3 separate regions of the Homo sapiens genome follow, and regions 1 and 2 are each linked to region 3. The links come from fine-mapping of genetic effects on gene expression. A gene starts in region 3. Each other region holds a variant in brackets. All regions are shown on one strand. Distances are between the middles of the regions.

What was found.
Region 1: its variant is fine-mapped to the expression of MIATNB in whole blood (INTERVAL, PIP above 0.99). The same link has a PIP of 0.9 or more in sigmoid colon.
Region 2: its variant is fine-mapped to the expression of MIATNB in whole blood (INTERVAL, PIP above 0.99). The same link has a PIP of 0.9 or more in blood mononuclear cells, esophagus mucosa, lung, monocytes, monocytes after LPS and monocytes after Pam3CSK4.

Annotation. Positions count from the first base shown.
Region 1 is chr22:26,746,526-26,751,751 of GRCh38, forward strand. The region is part of intron 2 of MIATNB (MIAT neighbor); the gene reads left to right. Among named protein-coding and RNA genes, the nearest start is that of MIATNB, 76 kb to the left of the region's middle. RefSeq lists an enhancer at 4,489-5,226. The variant G/A (reference allele first, on the strand shown) is at 2,533.
Region 2 is chr22:26,691,198-26,696,423 of GRCh38, forward strand. All of the region lies in intron 1 of MIATNB (MIAT neighbor), which reads left to right. Among named protein-coding and RNA genes, the nearest start is that of MIATNB, 21 kb to the left of the region's middle. The variant G/T (reference allele first, on the strand shown) is at 2,495.
Region 3 is chr22:26,670,150-26,675,375 of GRCh38, forward strand. It overlaps MIATNB (MIAT neighbor), which reads left to right and starts at 2,694. Exons shown (of 6, transcript NR_110543.1): 1 at 2,694-2,838. It overlaps MIAT (myocardial infarction associated transcript), which reads left to right. Exons shown (of 5, transcript NR_033320.3): 5 at 1-5,226.

The DNA of each region.
Region 1 (5,226 bases), 76 kb after region 3:
AAGCCACACAGCTTAAACCCAAGGCTAGTTGACTTTGAAGCCCATACTTCAAACACACCCTCTCTGTATCTTTATCTTATTTAGAAGGTAAAACAGCCACAGGACCTTTTCAATGACAATTCCTTGCCATTTTCCTCCCAGGGTCACCTTCCAGCCGCAAAGCCACAACACTCCCACTTCCTTTGCCTCCCTTGGCTCTCACAGAGCTTGGCTAAATCCAGTGCTAAGACTGAGTTGTCAAACAGGAGATAGAAAGAGAGAAAAAGCAATTTCTTCCATTTCTTGGCTCAATCCTATGCAGTCAATACTGTTAACAGTAAATCAAATAACAAGACTGCATTGACCCAGGAAAAGGCCAAGAAGAAAAAAATTCAGAGCAGAATCCAAAAAAGTAGAAAATAAAGTTCGGCCATAGGCATAAATCATACCTGGAGAACTGAGCCCACAGCACCAGCCTCAGGATGAGCCTGAGCTGCCCCCGAAAGCTGGGTCCCAAAGACCCCTGCTTTTGACTTTCAACTTTCTAGGACCCCTGTTTCTGGTAGATCCAGGGGAAAGGAGATCGCTCAGGGACGGGTTGAGGATATCTGATTTGCGGTCCCTCTGATTTGGGATGTCACTCCTCAACCCTGGGCTGAACTGGGAAAGGGGATCTGCAGAAAATGACTTTGGGAGAAAGTCCCCTTTGACTGCTCCCCTAACCCCTGCATTCCTTCTGGCATGCTGATCTTTTCAAGTTTCACAGTGCTGGATGCCGGCTCCAAAAAGAAAGAGGTTCACATGCTCTAAAAAGTATTCAATCTTGTCTGAGCCATGTTGCTGCCTGAACTATGGCTTCTTTAAATTAATGGAGTCATTCAACAAACATTTATGAAGCACCCACTGTATGCCAGGCATTGTTCTAAGGCCTTGGGGATTTAGCTGGGAACAAAATAGACACACATTCCTCACTTCACTGAAGCTACATCCTAGTGAGTGGTGGAAGATGATAAAACAAGGTTTGTATACTATGTTGGACAGTAATAGATGCTATGAGGAAACAAAGAAGGTAAAATGGGTTTCGTGTGTTTGTTGGGGATGGGGAGAGTCCAGTTTAGTTAAGGAAAAGAGACATTTGAGCAAAGACTTCAAAGGAGGCGAGGATGTGAGCCGTGGGGGTATCTGGGAGAAGGGTGTTTCAGGGACAGGGATCAGCAGGTGCAAAGGCTCTGAGGCAGGACGTGCTGGGGGCCTTTTGAAAAAAAGTGAGATATTACTGGAGGAAGTGAAGGGAGAGGGTGGCAGATGGTGAGGTCCAAGTTGGAGAGGTGACCAAGGGACCAGATTCTGTAGGGCCTCTGGGTGGATGCAGGGACTTTGGCTTTCCTCTAGGTGAAGTGTGGATTGTTGGGAAATTTGGAGCTGCAAAGGGACCTAATCTATTGGGTTTTAGCAATAAATGTTTACTTGTCAGTTTCTTCAGCCATGTGCTCTGACTAGTTAAGGTCATTAAAAAAATAGATGGAATTGCATGGGAATTTGTACATCCCTGAGAAGCACTCTCTGTGAAAATAACCTCCGATGCCCTGGCACATTCTTGGCTCTCAATAAATGCTCAAACATATTATTTGACCATAGAGAGAGGTCAGGATGGATGTTCAACAAAGAGTTAATGGTGCTTCCTTGGGAGAGTAGCTGGAATGAGTGTGGCAAGTAAAGGTTAATTATCTCTTTTATTTCTCTTTGTATTCATCAGATTGTTTTTTCAATTTTTATAGCTTTTTTGTTTTTTGAGATGGAATCTCACTCTGTTGGCCAGACTGGAGTGCAGTGGCGCAATCTCGGCTCACTGCAACCTCTGCCTCTCAGGTTCAAGTGATTCTCCTGCCTCAGCCTCCCAAGTAGCCGGGACTATAGGGGAGCACCACCACGCCCACCTAATTTTTGTATTTTTTGGTAGAGACGGGGTTTCACCATATAGGACAGTCTGGTCTCGAACTCCTGACCTCGTGATCTGTCCACCTCGGCCTCCCAAAGTGCTGGGATTACAGGCATGAGCCATTGTGCCTGGCCTATAGCTTTTTTTTTTTTTAAGGCAAGTTGAATGGGTGGGTGAAGACTAGGAGCTCTGTTTTGAGTTCTGTGACCTTGGTTCTGCCACTTGTGATTCTGAGCATTCATTTGCTCATATTTTTCACGAGTTAAAACTCTAAACTCTAATAGCTGCTTATGAAGTTTTAGGGGGGATAACAATGTAAATGGAATACGTTGTTCAGTGCCTGGCATAGAAATCAACGCTGATTTTAGTTTGCAAGGAGCCATGTAAGGTTTTTAAGGAGAGAAGTGAAGGCAAAAGATCTGGGTTTTAGAAAAAAGGATCACAGGGGTGTCCGTGCTAGTCTCCAACTACTGCTCTGAGCAAGCTTGGCCTCCTCCCTCTCCCTGGGCAGCTAGGGGCAGCTGGCCATTCCTTCTCCCCTTGATTTCCCTACCCCAGCCTAGTCTTCTCCACCCTTCCTGGGGAAAGCCAACCCCTTGCCTGGCAGGCCTCCC[G/A]GCAACCAAAGGACTTCTTTGAGGGAAGAAGCCACGTTACCCAGAAAAAATCAATAGAATCTTTTTCCAGGCAAATTTCAGAGACTTGTGAGAAGCAGCAGCAGCCTGGGAACTTGTCTCCCATTCAGCGTAGGAACCTCTTGCACAGCATTTGGCTATGAGGCCCTCAAAGTGGACACGTGTTCGTATCTCCTTTTCAGCAACTGCCCCGCTTTCTGGTAACAGCATGCCATCTTCCTTGAAAAGCCACCCTTGGCCATGCCAAGCCCAACAACATGGGTAGAGGTGACTCCTTCTCCTCCCTCACTGGAGGTAGGCATGGCCAGTGAACCAGGTCTGAGCCAATCGAGTACTGCTGCCCTCAGCCTACAGTGATTGATTCAGAGATGAGACTCAAGGAGGGCCAGCCGCAGGATTTTGGTTCAGTCTGATGATGTAACAGTCAGAGTGGACTGTGATATGCTGCAATATAACTAATACCTCCTAAATTCTCAGTTACAGTGACTCAGGTTTTTAAAAATTTTTTTTATTAATTTATTAATTTTATTTTTTATTTCAATTGGTTTTTGGGGAGCAGATGGTGTTTGGTTACATGAATAAGTTTTTAATGGTGATTTCTGAGATTTTGGTGCACCCCTCACCCCAGCAGTCTACATTATACCCAATGTGTAGTCTTTTATCCCTCACCCCCTCCCACCCTTTCCCGTGAGTCCGCAAAATTCATTCTGTCATTTTTATCCCTTTGTGTCCTCAAAGCTAACCTATCACTTGTAAGTGTGGAATGTTTGGTTTCCCATTCCTGAGTTACTTCACTTAGAATAATGGTCTCAAATGCCATCCAGGTTGCTGTGAATGCTTCGATTTTATTCCTGTTTATGGCCGAGTAGTATTCCATGGTGTATATATATCTATATATCACCTTTTCTTTATCCGCTCGTTGATTGATGGTCATTTGGGCTAGTTCCATATTTTTGCAATTGCGAATTGTGCTGCTATAAACATGTGTGGGCAAATATCTTTTTTGTATGATGACTTTCTTTTCCTCTGGCTAGATACCCAGTAGTAGGATTGCTGGATCAAATAGTAGCTCTACTTTTAGTTCTTTAAGGAATCTAGTGGCTCAGGTTTATTTTTTATTTTTTATTTTCTTATTTTTTATTTTTAGATGGAGTCTTGCTCTGCCGCCCAGGCTGGAGTGCAGTGGCACAATCTCAGCTCACTGCAACCTCCACCTTCCGGGTTCAAGCAATTCTCCTGCCTCAGCCTACCGAGTAGCTGGGACTACAGGTGTGCACCACCACGCCTGGCTAATTTTTTTTTTTTTTAATTCTAGTAAAGATGGGGTTTCACCATGTTGGCCAGGTTGGTCTCAAACTCCTGACCTCAGGTGATCCACCTACCTTGGCCTCCCAAAGTGCTGGGATTATAGGCATGAGCCACCGTGCCCAGCCTGGCTCAGGTTTTAATGGCACAGAGCAGCCAAGATTGATTTGCTGCTTGTGCTCTGTGTGCACGGTGTACGCCTCCGGGAAAAACCAAAGGGCAAAAACCAAGTCTTCACCAACCAAGCTGGTGGAGGCTCTGCTCCACATCCTTCTCATCCACAGACTCAGGCTGATGGAGACTCTATCACCTGGAACATCATCAGTTACCACCACAGGGGGGAAGGGAACGTGGAATCAGATGAGTCTGATGTCAAATCCTGACTTTGCTGTTTAAAGCAAGGGACATGCCTGACCTGCTGGGTCCATAGTTACTGCTTAGCTCCGAGAGTATTGATTTTCCCCCTGTCCAATGTCTTCAACCCTATTCATTGTGTATTCAACCAGGATTTTCAAGGCTTGACTCAAACACCTGCCATTCAGAGATTCCTTCTCAAACTCATCTCATGGCCAGCACCTCTCCGTCATCTTAGCACAGAGGGAAGCACAAAGTAGGGGCTGTGCTCAGTGCCCTGTCAGTGTCTAGCAAAGGCCTAAGCACTCAGTAGGTGCTATGCTCAGTGTCACCCAAGGTGCTTTGCAGTGTCAGGCACAATAGTGGATGTTATTCTCTGTACCATCGGCAATGCCCATCCCAGTACCAAGCACATAGTGTGCTCTTTCTTTGCTGTTTCCTTTCCCTGAGTGTTTCTAGCAGTGTGTCTCCAGGAAGTTATGCCCCAAGACACTTCCTCCAGGTCCTCAGCCTCTTGCACGTTGGGACTTGGAATGTGCCACCTGGAGCTGCTATCAGGGTGCAGTCGGCTGAAATAGGTGGGGTGAGGCAAGCAGTCCTTGAAAAGATGGTCCAGGGCTGTCCTTCCCTGTGGGGGTCATCTGGGGTCAGTGAGCAGCGACTTGGCTTATGCATTTCCTCCCAGGGCCCCAGACAAAGAGAGAGTCCTTGGCAATGCGGTTACCTTGACAACTCTTTGTGTTGGAGAGTGAGAGAGAGAGGGGGAGGAAGGCAGCTCAGGGAAGCGGGGTGGCTGCTGGGGGAGGGGGAAGGAGCAGGGAGGAGCTGGAGGAGAAATCCACCTTTAAAAGGGAAGAGAGAAATGACTCCACTTCTGGGCAGAGGGAAGGAAGTGTCTTTATGGTGCAGGATGGAGGCTGGTCTGGGTGGGACATCCTGCCTCTCCTTCTCACCCCATCTAGAAATTCTGCCAGCAGTCTTAACATCCAGAGAACTAGGTCTGAGTCCCAGCCCTTC
Region 2 (5,226 bases), 21 kb after region 3:
CCCTGGTGACTTGGCAAGGAGGGAGCTAGAGGAATAAATAGGTTGACCTCAGTTTCCTTCCTCTCTTTCATCTTCTGTTGTTGCTCTCCGTTGGCTGATCTTAACAAGAGGCTGGAGGAAGGGGCACAGCCTATTTATGCAGCCAGTAGAGACCAACTTCTTAGGGACTGGGTAGGTTGGAGGAGGATGGACAGTGGATCAAGAGGGGTAAATAGATGATACGCCGCACAAGCAACTTCTTAGAGTCACACACCTTCTAGTGTTAGAGTTCAGATTCAAATTCAAATCTCTTTAAAGTCAGATCATACCGTGCACCCTTCCGTTTCCTGACAATCTAACAATCCAGTGAGAGACACACTTATATTTCTACTTCGTAAAGGTCCAGAGAGGTTAAGTAAATAAACCAGAGTCACACAGCTAGCAAGTGGCAAAGCTGGGATTCTAATTCAATTCCAAAACTTGACTTCCAACCTCTCCACCTCCATCGACCCATATATATCCACTGACCAATCTATTCATTCATCAGACTTTTACTGCATGTCTTAAGCTATGCACTGTGTTCAGAGCGGAATGAGATTCCATTCTTTTCTTTTCTTTTCTTTTCTTTTCTTTTCTTTTCTTTTCTTTTCTTTTCTTTCTTTCTTTCTTTCTTTCTTTCTTTCTTTCTTTCTTTCTTTCTTTCTTTCTTTTTCTTTCTTTCTTTCTTTCTTTCATCTTTCCATCTTTTTTTTTTGTTGACAGATTCCAGATTCTCCCTCTGTTGCCCAGGCTGGCTGGAGTGGAGTGGCATGATCTTGGCTCACTGCAATCTCTGCCTCCCAAGTTCAAGCAATTCTCCTGCCTCAGCCTCCCGAGTAGCTGGGATTACAGGTGTCCACCACCATACCTGGCTAATTTTTATATTTTTAATAGAGACGGGGTTTCATCCTGTTGGCCAGGCTGGTCTTGAACTCCTGACCTCAGGTAGTTTGCTCGCCTCGGCCTCCCAAAGTGCTGAGATTATAGGTGTGAGCCACTATGCCTGGCCAAGATGCCATTCTTATGTCCTCATGTTATTTACAGTCTGATGAAAGAAACGGACCTGTATACAGATTATCGTGCAGTGGAGGGGAACAGGAGCTTTAAGAGAGGAAAGTATAGTGCTCATCGGTGGGCATGTGGGAGGGAGAGGTCTGCTCAACTGGGGGAGCCTGGAAAGGCAGCATCCTTTTAAGCTGGGTTTTGAAGGATGCATAAGATCCCAAGGGGATGGTGCATCTTGGGAAGGTATGCTCATATCTTTTTAACCCAGCTGCCTCTCCTTTGCTGGAGCTTCCTCCTTCCAGGGCATGATTTGGAAGGACAGAGTTTTACTGTTATTGAGGACACAGAGTTCTCTAAAGTGCATAGCCCAGGGGATGGAATGGAGCAGGGGATGTATGTATGTGTGGAAAAAATCCACCTTGGTTTGAATTCTTGTCTGGCCATTTCTGAAATACATGACCTTATGGGGACCCTTCCCTATGTGGTCATCTCTACAGGAGATTTCATATCCCTACCCAACTGGTGTCAGGTTGGCCAGGTGACTTTCAGCCAATGGGATGAAAGTGAGTGGAGGTGGTATGTGCCACTTTTTGGCAGACACTGTAAGAACCCTTGTGTGGTCACCTTTTCCCTTCCCTCTTTGTGACACTATGGTAATTTTTACTATTTCCTAAGTGTTGTGCTTCACCTTCCCTTTTTACCTTGGCCTTGAGACCATCAGGTTTCCATAAGGGAGTTGCTCCCTTTGCCTTCATCCTGGAATGAAGTGAGGAGGGGCAGAGCAAAAACAGAGCTACAAGGGTTTGTCAGATTGCAGAGGAATGAATGATTGCTATCTAAGCCACCGAGACCTTTGAAGGCACCTGTTAGCATCACATAGTGTAGCCTAAGATGACCAAAACAGCAAGGTGTGTTGCCTTTCTGTGTGTTAGTTTGCTCAACTGTAGAAGTGCATTGATAGTTGTAGTTACCTTATGGAGGTCTGGTGAAGATTAGGTGGAATTCCTAAGTAAAAGTGCAGTTTCTAGCCTATAGTGTGTCTACACTTCGCAAATGTCTAAGACTCTTCTTCCAGTTCCTTGTCTCTGCTGTACTTACTTCTACCCCAGGGCCTGTGCACATCCATGCTGTTCTCTTTGCCGGGGGTATTCTGTCTTTCCCTCGTTCCCTTCTTTACTCAAAATCCCATATGCAGACCTAGCTCCTCCAGGAGGTCAGCTAAGGATGGGCTTGGAGCTCAGGAAAGTCAGGTCATGAAAGGGATGAAAAAGGTTGCACTTCAACAACCAGAATCAGGAAATCTAGAAAACAGTTCCTTTAACATCAACATGCACACATATTTTGGGTTTTATGGTTTTGCATTGTTTTAATTTCAGTTTACATAGGAGATTGCAGAGGGGGCTCCCTCATCTTTTCTAAGCTTAAGGCTTCTGAAGATCTTTACCTGTTCCTGTCCACAGATAGCAGGGCT[G/T]GGAGAAAGGGATGGGGAGAGTCCCTCCTGCCACTGACCCAGGATGGATAAAAGTACCCCTTTCATAGAAGGAAGAAAATGGGAACAAAGGTGCTGCTGATCATCTGAGGTTGCCTGCATGGCAGTGAAGAACATGGACCTTTGGGTGAGGCTACCTGGATTTAATTGTTGGTTCTGCCATTTACCAGCTATATGAGCTTGGGTGTGTCATTCTTTACCACTGAGCCTCACTTTTTACATTCATAAAATGGGAATAATTATACCAGCTTGCTGGGTCATGGTGAGGACAACTAAGGCGAGTGCCCATAGTGAAGCCTATATAAAGATGGCTGATTGTTCGGTCATTCCTTATTTATTGAATGTCTGCTATGTGCCAAGTTCCATGAGAGGCACTGGAGATGCAGAGATGACCAGGACAGACTAGATCCTTGCTCTCAAGATTATGTATTTGTAAATAAACATATAATGAGTCAGATTGCAGCAAGGGATATGGAGAAAAAAGTCAGGGTAACTGTGGAAAGTAACGGTGGATCAGATTTTATTTTATTTGGACATAATTGACAAATAGATTGACCAATACCCAAATATAATTGGGTAATGTTTAAGGGGTACAACTTGATGCTGTAATATACATATATGTTGTGAAATGATCCTTATAGTCAAGCTATTTGACACGTTCATCGCCTCACATAATTGTCTTTTTTTGTGGTGAAACCTACCCTCTTAGCAAATTTCAAATATATATTATTAACTGTAATCATTATGCCATACATTAGATCTCCAGAACTCATCCATCTTGCTTAATTGAAACTTTGTACCCTTTGACCAACATCTCATTTCCCTGTCCCTCCAACCTCTGGCAACCAGTATTTTAGTCTATGTCTCTATGCTTTGACTCTTTTAGATTCCAAATATAGGTGAGGTCATACAGTATTTATCTTTCTGTGTCAGACAAATTCTGTTTTAGAAAGCGAATTCAGAAAAGACTTCTCTAAGGAGGTGACATTTGAACAGGGACCCATGCACCAACGCTACATAACAAATGGCCACAAACTGAAAGCAGCATATATTTATTATCTTACTGTGTCTGAGGGCCAAGAACCTAGGCTGTGTCCTCTGCTTCAGAATCTCCTCTAAAACCTATAGTCAAAGTATTGGTTGGGGCTGTAGCCTCACTTGAAACTCAACCGGGGAAGGATCCACTTCCAAACTCATGGGGTTGTTGGCAGAATTCAGTTCCTTGTGGGCTGTAAGACTGAGGGCCTCAGTTTCTTGCTGGCTATAAGATGGAAGCAGCCCTCACTGCCTGGCTGTTTGTTGGCCAGAGGCTACTGCACATGGCCCACCCCAGTGTGGCTGCTTGCTTCATCAAAGCCAGCAAGGAGAGTCTCCTAGCAAGATGGGCATTAATTACAGTCTTATATGATGTAGTCATGAGAGCAGCCTCCTGTCCCCTTTATTGTATTCTTTCCTCTGTGGGTTTTTTTTTTTTTTTTTGAGATGGAATAATCTTGCTGTGCCACTCAGGCTGGACTGCAGTGGTGCAATCACGGCTCACTGCAACCTCCACCTCCCGGGTTCAAGTGATTCTCCTGCCTCAGCCTCCTGAGTAACTGGGATTGCAGGCATGCACGACCACACTGGGCTAATTTTTTTGTATTTTTAGTAGACACAGGGTTTCACCATGCTGGCTAGGCTGGTCTCCAACTGCTGACCTCAAGTGATCTGCCTGCCTCAGCCTCCCAAAGTGCTGGGATTACAGGCATGAGTCACCATGCTGGGTCCTCTTTATTGTATTCTATTGATTAGAAGCAAGCTCTTGGTCCTGCCCATATGTAAGGGTGGAGGTTATACAAATGGGTAAATACTGAGAGGTGGGGGGCATTGGGAGCCCCTTTGAGTCTATCTGCCATGGCCTATGTGAGGTAGATGGAGTGAGCAGAGTGGAGACCTGACCTGCCAGGTAGAGGGAGACAGCAGGAGCAAAGGCCCTGAGGTGGGATCCTGCTTGATGTGTTCAAAGATCAGCAAGGAGCTGAATGAGAGAGGGGAGGATAACTCATGTAGGGCCTTGTAGGTAAGAGCTTGTCTTTTGGATTTTATTCTTGGGCGTGCTGAGGAGCTACTGGGTGGTTTCCCAGTCCATCTATTTATTTATGTTCCTAGATTTTAAGAGTTGTGGTGAAAGACACATAACCTAAAATTTGCCATTTTAACCTTTCTAAAGTGGACAATTCAGTGGCCTTTAGTCCATTCACAAGGTTGTATAAGCATCATCACTATCTGGTTCCAGAACATTTTCATTACCCTGAAAGGAAATCCCACAACTATTAGCAGTCACTCCCCCTTGCCTCCTTCCCGCAAAACCTAGGCAACCACTAATCAGCTTTCTGTCTCTATCAGTTTGACTATTCTGGGTATTTCATATAAATGGAATTGTACAATACATGCTTGGCTTCTTTCACTTAGCATGTTTTCAAGGTTCATCCATGTTGTCGCATGTATCAGTATTTCATTCTTTTTTTTTTTTGAGACAGAGTCTCGCTCTGTCGCCCAGGCTGGAGTGCAGTGGTGCGATCTCGGCTCACTGCAACCTCCGCCTCCTGGATTCACGCCATTCTCCTGCCTCAGCCTCCTGTGTAACTGGGACTACAGGCGCCTGCCACCACGCCCGGCTAATTTTTTATATTTTTAGTAGAGTTGGGGTTTCACCGTGTTAGCCAGGATGGTCT
Region 3 (5,226 bases):
TATCACTCTTTAATCAGCTTGGGGAGGTGGCAGCATTTCATGGCCTCCGTAGTAACTCACAATGCTTCCTGGGGTATTTAAATTCTACTCTCTCATCAGCACTGAGCACCTACTTTGGGCCCTTTCCCGTGCTAGCCATTTGGGGGAAATATAGGTGAAGAGTGGCTGGGGTTTGAACCTTTAGGATTTCACAGCCATGCTGGATGGGATAAAACCAGCTCACATGGAGAATCAGAGAATGGGACAGTGCCACAAAACAGTCTACTGAGGCACAAGTTCTGAGTGCCTGGGAAGTGGTAGAGAGACCCCAGAGAGGGCTGCTGCAGTCTGGAACAGCTTCCTAGCAAGCTGTACCAAACAGGGCCTTGAAGGATGAGAAAGATCTGGCTGAGATGATACCCGACCCTCTAGGGAAATTCTTAAAGTAACTTCTAGGAAATGTCATTGCTCCTTAAAAAAAAAAAAAAAAAAAAAAAAGCAGGTTCTAATTCAAATTCCGCTGCACTACTGAAGTAGTGCAGGACTTATCAGAACCTTTAAAATGCTAATGGCAATTTCAAATACTCAGGGACAGGGCATAGGATGAAGTGTTCCTTGACTTTTATGGCCGTAGAATCTTTTTCTCATGGAACATCGTTTAGAACTGTGGGAGATGCTAGGCTGGGGTTTCTATGGGAAAAGTACAGCAGTGATAGAAGATGGCATAATTAGGGTACACTTAGGTGCTTTGTAGCATTGGCTGAAAAGGAAGCAGACCGGGTGGGCGTGGGGGAGTCTCAACTTGGTTCCAGGAGCCAGGCCAGCTTGATGCGTTTTTTTTTTTTCTAATGGTGGGAGGGCAGGCCAATAGTTGGAGAAACTAGAGGCCTGACAGTCGGTGATGGAAGAGATGTCTACTAAGCACGGTTGTCAGATCTTTTGCGGAGAGATGCGGGTGTGCGTGTGTCTGTCAGAGTGTAACAGGATCCAGCCCTCTGGGAAGGGGCTGACCAGAACCAGGCAGGGGGTTTCTGTCTAGGACAAGTAGGGTCCATTTTCAGGGGAGCTGAAATATTTGCAGGGGGTGCTCTGAGACCCACAGCCAATAAATAGGGAAGCAACATGCTTTTGGGCAGGGTCCATGTGGTTAGGGTTGATTTTGATGGGGCTGGGGGGCTTAGAGTTAGACCCCCTGCCCTGGTCAGGCCCCACTCCCTGGCTGGTGGGGGCGGGAGGCCTCTGAAGCTGCAGCTGGAGGGGCCGGGGCAGTGTTGCATGGTGTGATTAACCTACTAACCCAGGGCTCAGCCGGGACGCTGTGGCGTGTGACGAGGTGCCTGGCCTTCTGCCAACCAACTAACCCACTAACCAGGCCCGAGCATGCCCTACTAACCACCCCCCCGCAGCCAGATCCTACTAACTGTGCAGCTCATGGGCCTTTCAAGGGGCTGGGATATGGGGGCAGCCAAGGCTCCAGAAGGCTCTGCCTATGGGCTGGGATCTTTGTGCAGACCCACGTTCCAGGACAGAGAATGCAAATAAGACTCACCAACTCTGCCACTTCCTGTTGAGTGAGTTTGAGTAAGTCACCTCACTTCTCTCAACCTCAGTTTCCTCAGTGGTAGAATGCGAGTTCTGATACCTTACAGGTTGCAGTGAGGATTCCCGTCAATATAAGGGTCTCAGCACATGGCAGACACCTAAAAAAAAAAAAAGTATGAGGATGGAGGAAGGCCCCTCAAACCTGGTTGAACACGTCTGCTGCCTAGGCCCTGGCCTCTCTGGGTGTTCTGCACACAGATCCTTCTGCCTGGGGCAAGACACTTGGCTTTGAATCCATGTCACTTCCCCACATTCTTCCTCCGTCTCAGCTTTCTTTTCTGTAGGCAGCTCTTTTGTTCGATTACTAACCCGTCTAACCCCTGGGGTGCCTCAACTGCACCCCGATCATCCCTTAACAAACTAACGGACCTGCGTGCGTTCTTCCTTTTCTCTTAGCGACTCCTGTGTGTGTCTGCTGAGGTGCCCTGTCCGCTGGTGCTGTGCTCTGACTTACTAACCCAGCCCCTACTAACCCTGTTTTCTCTTCTTACTAACCCCAGCCCTGCCGAGCTCTGGGCTCCCCCCGGGGGCTGGTCCCCCTCCTTTTGGCAAGCAGATGACCTGGGGCTACTGGCCCTGTAGACAGATGTCCCACTTTGCTGCCCCATATTGGCTGTAAGATCAGAGTCCACTGGGCCAGGTCTAAGGCAGGGGATGGCCCTATTAACAAGACTCAGAGGAGGAAGAGGTGGTCCTGTGGATGTGGGAGGCTGGACTCTGAGTATGACATCTCTCCTATGTGCAGAAGTCTGGTTGCCACTGGGAGTAGGTGGGACCAGGGAAATCTCTGGGACGTGAGTGTGGAGGCCTGTTGGTCTAGACTCTAGACTGTGGAGCTCTGAGCTTTTGTGTCCTCTGGAAGGAAGCTGGGGAAGAATCCTCTCCATTGTTAAGTGACGGGGATAGAAGCTGTCCTGCACAGGAAGTCACGAGGGGGGCGTATCCCACGAGGAAGGCAGGAGGGGGCGTGCCCCTCACCGGAAATTAGCAGAGGGGCGTGTCCCACACCGGAAGTCAGAAAGCGGAGCCTTTCTTACACCGGAAGTCAATGAAGCGGGTCTTTCCTACGCTAAAAACCACTGAGTGGAGTATTTAGTACACAGGAAGTCGGCCAGAGAAACATTTCTCATATTTGAAGGCCGGAAAGAGGGACATTTCTGACACCGGAAGTCAGTGAGAGGACTCTTTCCCACACAGGAAGTCAGCTAGAGAGCCGTCTCCCCTCTCTGGAGCCGAGAGAGGCCGGTTTCCCCCACCGTAAGTAGACGTGGGGCCGTGACCGGAAGTCCTTGGGAAAGATCCGTCCCATTCCCGGAAGCTAGAGGGCGTTAGTTGTCGGGTTGAAAAGGGGTGTGGGGAGGGGAAGCAGCTTTACCCCGGGCTCGGAGTTTGCAGGAGAGAGAAGTGGGGAGCAAGAAGTGAACCTCAGGGGCTCACAGGGTTCCCGCAGATGCTCAGGCCGGCCAGGAATGCATCTCTGGCTCTCTGTTCCCACGGACGTCACTGCCTCAGCCAGCCTCCCCCAGAGCCCGCCAGCCGCTAAGCCGGGGCCACACCTGGGGGTGATTTCATGCCTCACCTCCAGTAGGCACCTTGGTTTCTTTGGGCTAATCTCTGGCTCCCTTGCGCTAACTCTTGCTCTCACCCAGCTAATCCCTGCCTCACCCTGACTGCCCCAGGGGCTGACCACTAACAACCAACCTGGCCCTGTCTGGGGGTTCCAGGCTCCTGGCCTGGCCCTGACCGGTTCTTAATTAACCTTTCCTTCACCTTGACTAACTCCTGCCTTCCTGGTCTGTTCCTTTCAGCAGAAACTAATGGTTTGTGGATTTTTTTCTGACTAACAACAGGTCTAACATTCCTCGTTACTGTTAACAGCTTGGATGTCGGCATGGCTGGGAAGGGGCTAACACAGCTTTGAACTTGGCTAACACAGGTTTGAACTTGGCTAACACAGGTTTGAACTTGACTAACACAGGGAAAAGCATAGCTAACAATTTTGGGCGTGGTGGCTGCTCTGAGTCAGAACAATCAGAAGTCGGTAAAGATGGTAGTTTTCTAAAGGAGGTGCCAGGGCTCTGGTGTGGACCAGGCCTGATGGAGCAGTGGTACCCACCAAGGTGGGGTCAGAAGTATAGCCAGTCTTGCAAGGTTTTGGCCATTGGGCATATCTTCACTCCTCATAGTCTGCATTTGGTTTCAGTTCTTAAAAAAATATAGCCTTATAGCTACAGTAGTTTGCACAAGTAGATGCAGCTCTTATAAACCTTAAAATACCTGTCTGGTGTCTACAGAGCATATGCCATTTTGTATAGAGTCACCCTTCCCCAGGCCAGGGCCTAGAGTCTTCATTTTGGGGACTTTGTGTTTTGGAAGTTCTAGGACATAAAGCTTTAGATCAGAGTATTCAGAAGGGTTATAACTCCGTCAGTCATTTACATGTTAGTAGTATAAATTATCTGAGCTTCCTGTTCTAACTTTTAGCTCTTCTAGCATAAACTCTTCTGTGCAATTTAGCTGCACCGAGGAAACGGGAGTTTTTCTGGAAGGGACTTTTGATCTCTTTAGACTGAGGGAACGTCCTTTGGGAGTAGAGGGGCAGGGAGCATACGCAAGGGATTCCAGGTGCAGGTAAAAGGTGGCACTAGTTCAAGGTTTTGCTGACTCAGTCTGGTAGTCAGAGTCTGCAGGAGAAGACAGTTCAAGGCAGGGCCTGGAGGATTGGATCAGTTTAGGGACAGGTCAAAGGCTGGCTTACAGACCTTAGAGGCAGGTTGCTTGGGTCGTTGAATGCTAGTCTGGTGCTGAGAGCCCTTTTCTCTGGCAACTGTGGACTCAGAGCTAACCAATTGTAGTTGGCAGTGGGGGTGAAGGGTGATCCAGAGGCCTGAGCTGCAGAGGGCACAAGAGAGAAAAGATGTCTTAGAAAGAGCTTTGAGAACATGCCTTGGCTGCTGGCAGGGACCTTGGATGGGGTAGTCTACACCCGGAAGTGCCTGCCTGCCATCCTCTAGTGGCTGCCTTGCTCCATTTCACTCAAAGCAGGAAGCTCACACCTCCTATTCCTGAAACTCCTCTTTGTTTAACTGCAAAGACTTGATGCTGCTAAGGATCTACTATGTGCCAGGCACTGCTCTGGGCGCTGGGACCTGCACCTGGGCTTTTTCGTCATGGTGCTTTTATAGCCTAGTGGGAGAGTTGGTGAAGTAGATAGTGATTCAGTGAGATGGGTGTTATGATTGGTCAGGGGTCTGTGGGAGCACCAAGGAGACAGACAAGATTGATGTGCACCTACTCTGTGCCAGGCGTGTGCCAGGCATTGGGGATGTAGTGGTAGTTAAACACCATTTGGTCTTCAGGAGCTTTAATTCTAGTGTGTTGGGTGCAGGGGGGTGGAATGGGGACAGAGAGACACCTAATCCACCCTGTGGTGGCTTTCTGGAGAGGGAGGCATCTAAGCTGAGCTGTGGCTGGGTGGAGTGTGGGTGGGGATGAGTTCCGGGCAGCGAGAGTGGTGGACACCAGTTTCTGGGGATCAGAGAGGATCCAAAGAGGTTCTGGAAGGTTCATGTGGAATGTAGCAAGAGATAGGAGACATGGACATGGTGCCGGGTCTGGTTGCCAAGAAGTTTAGATTTTATCCTT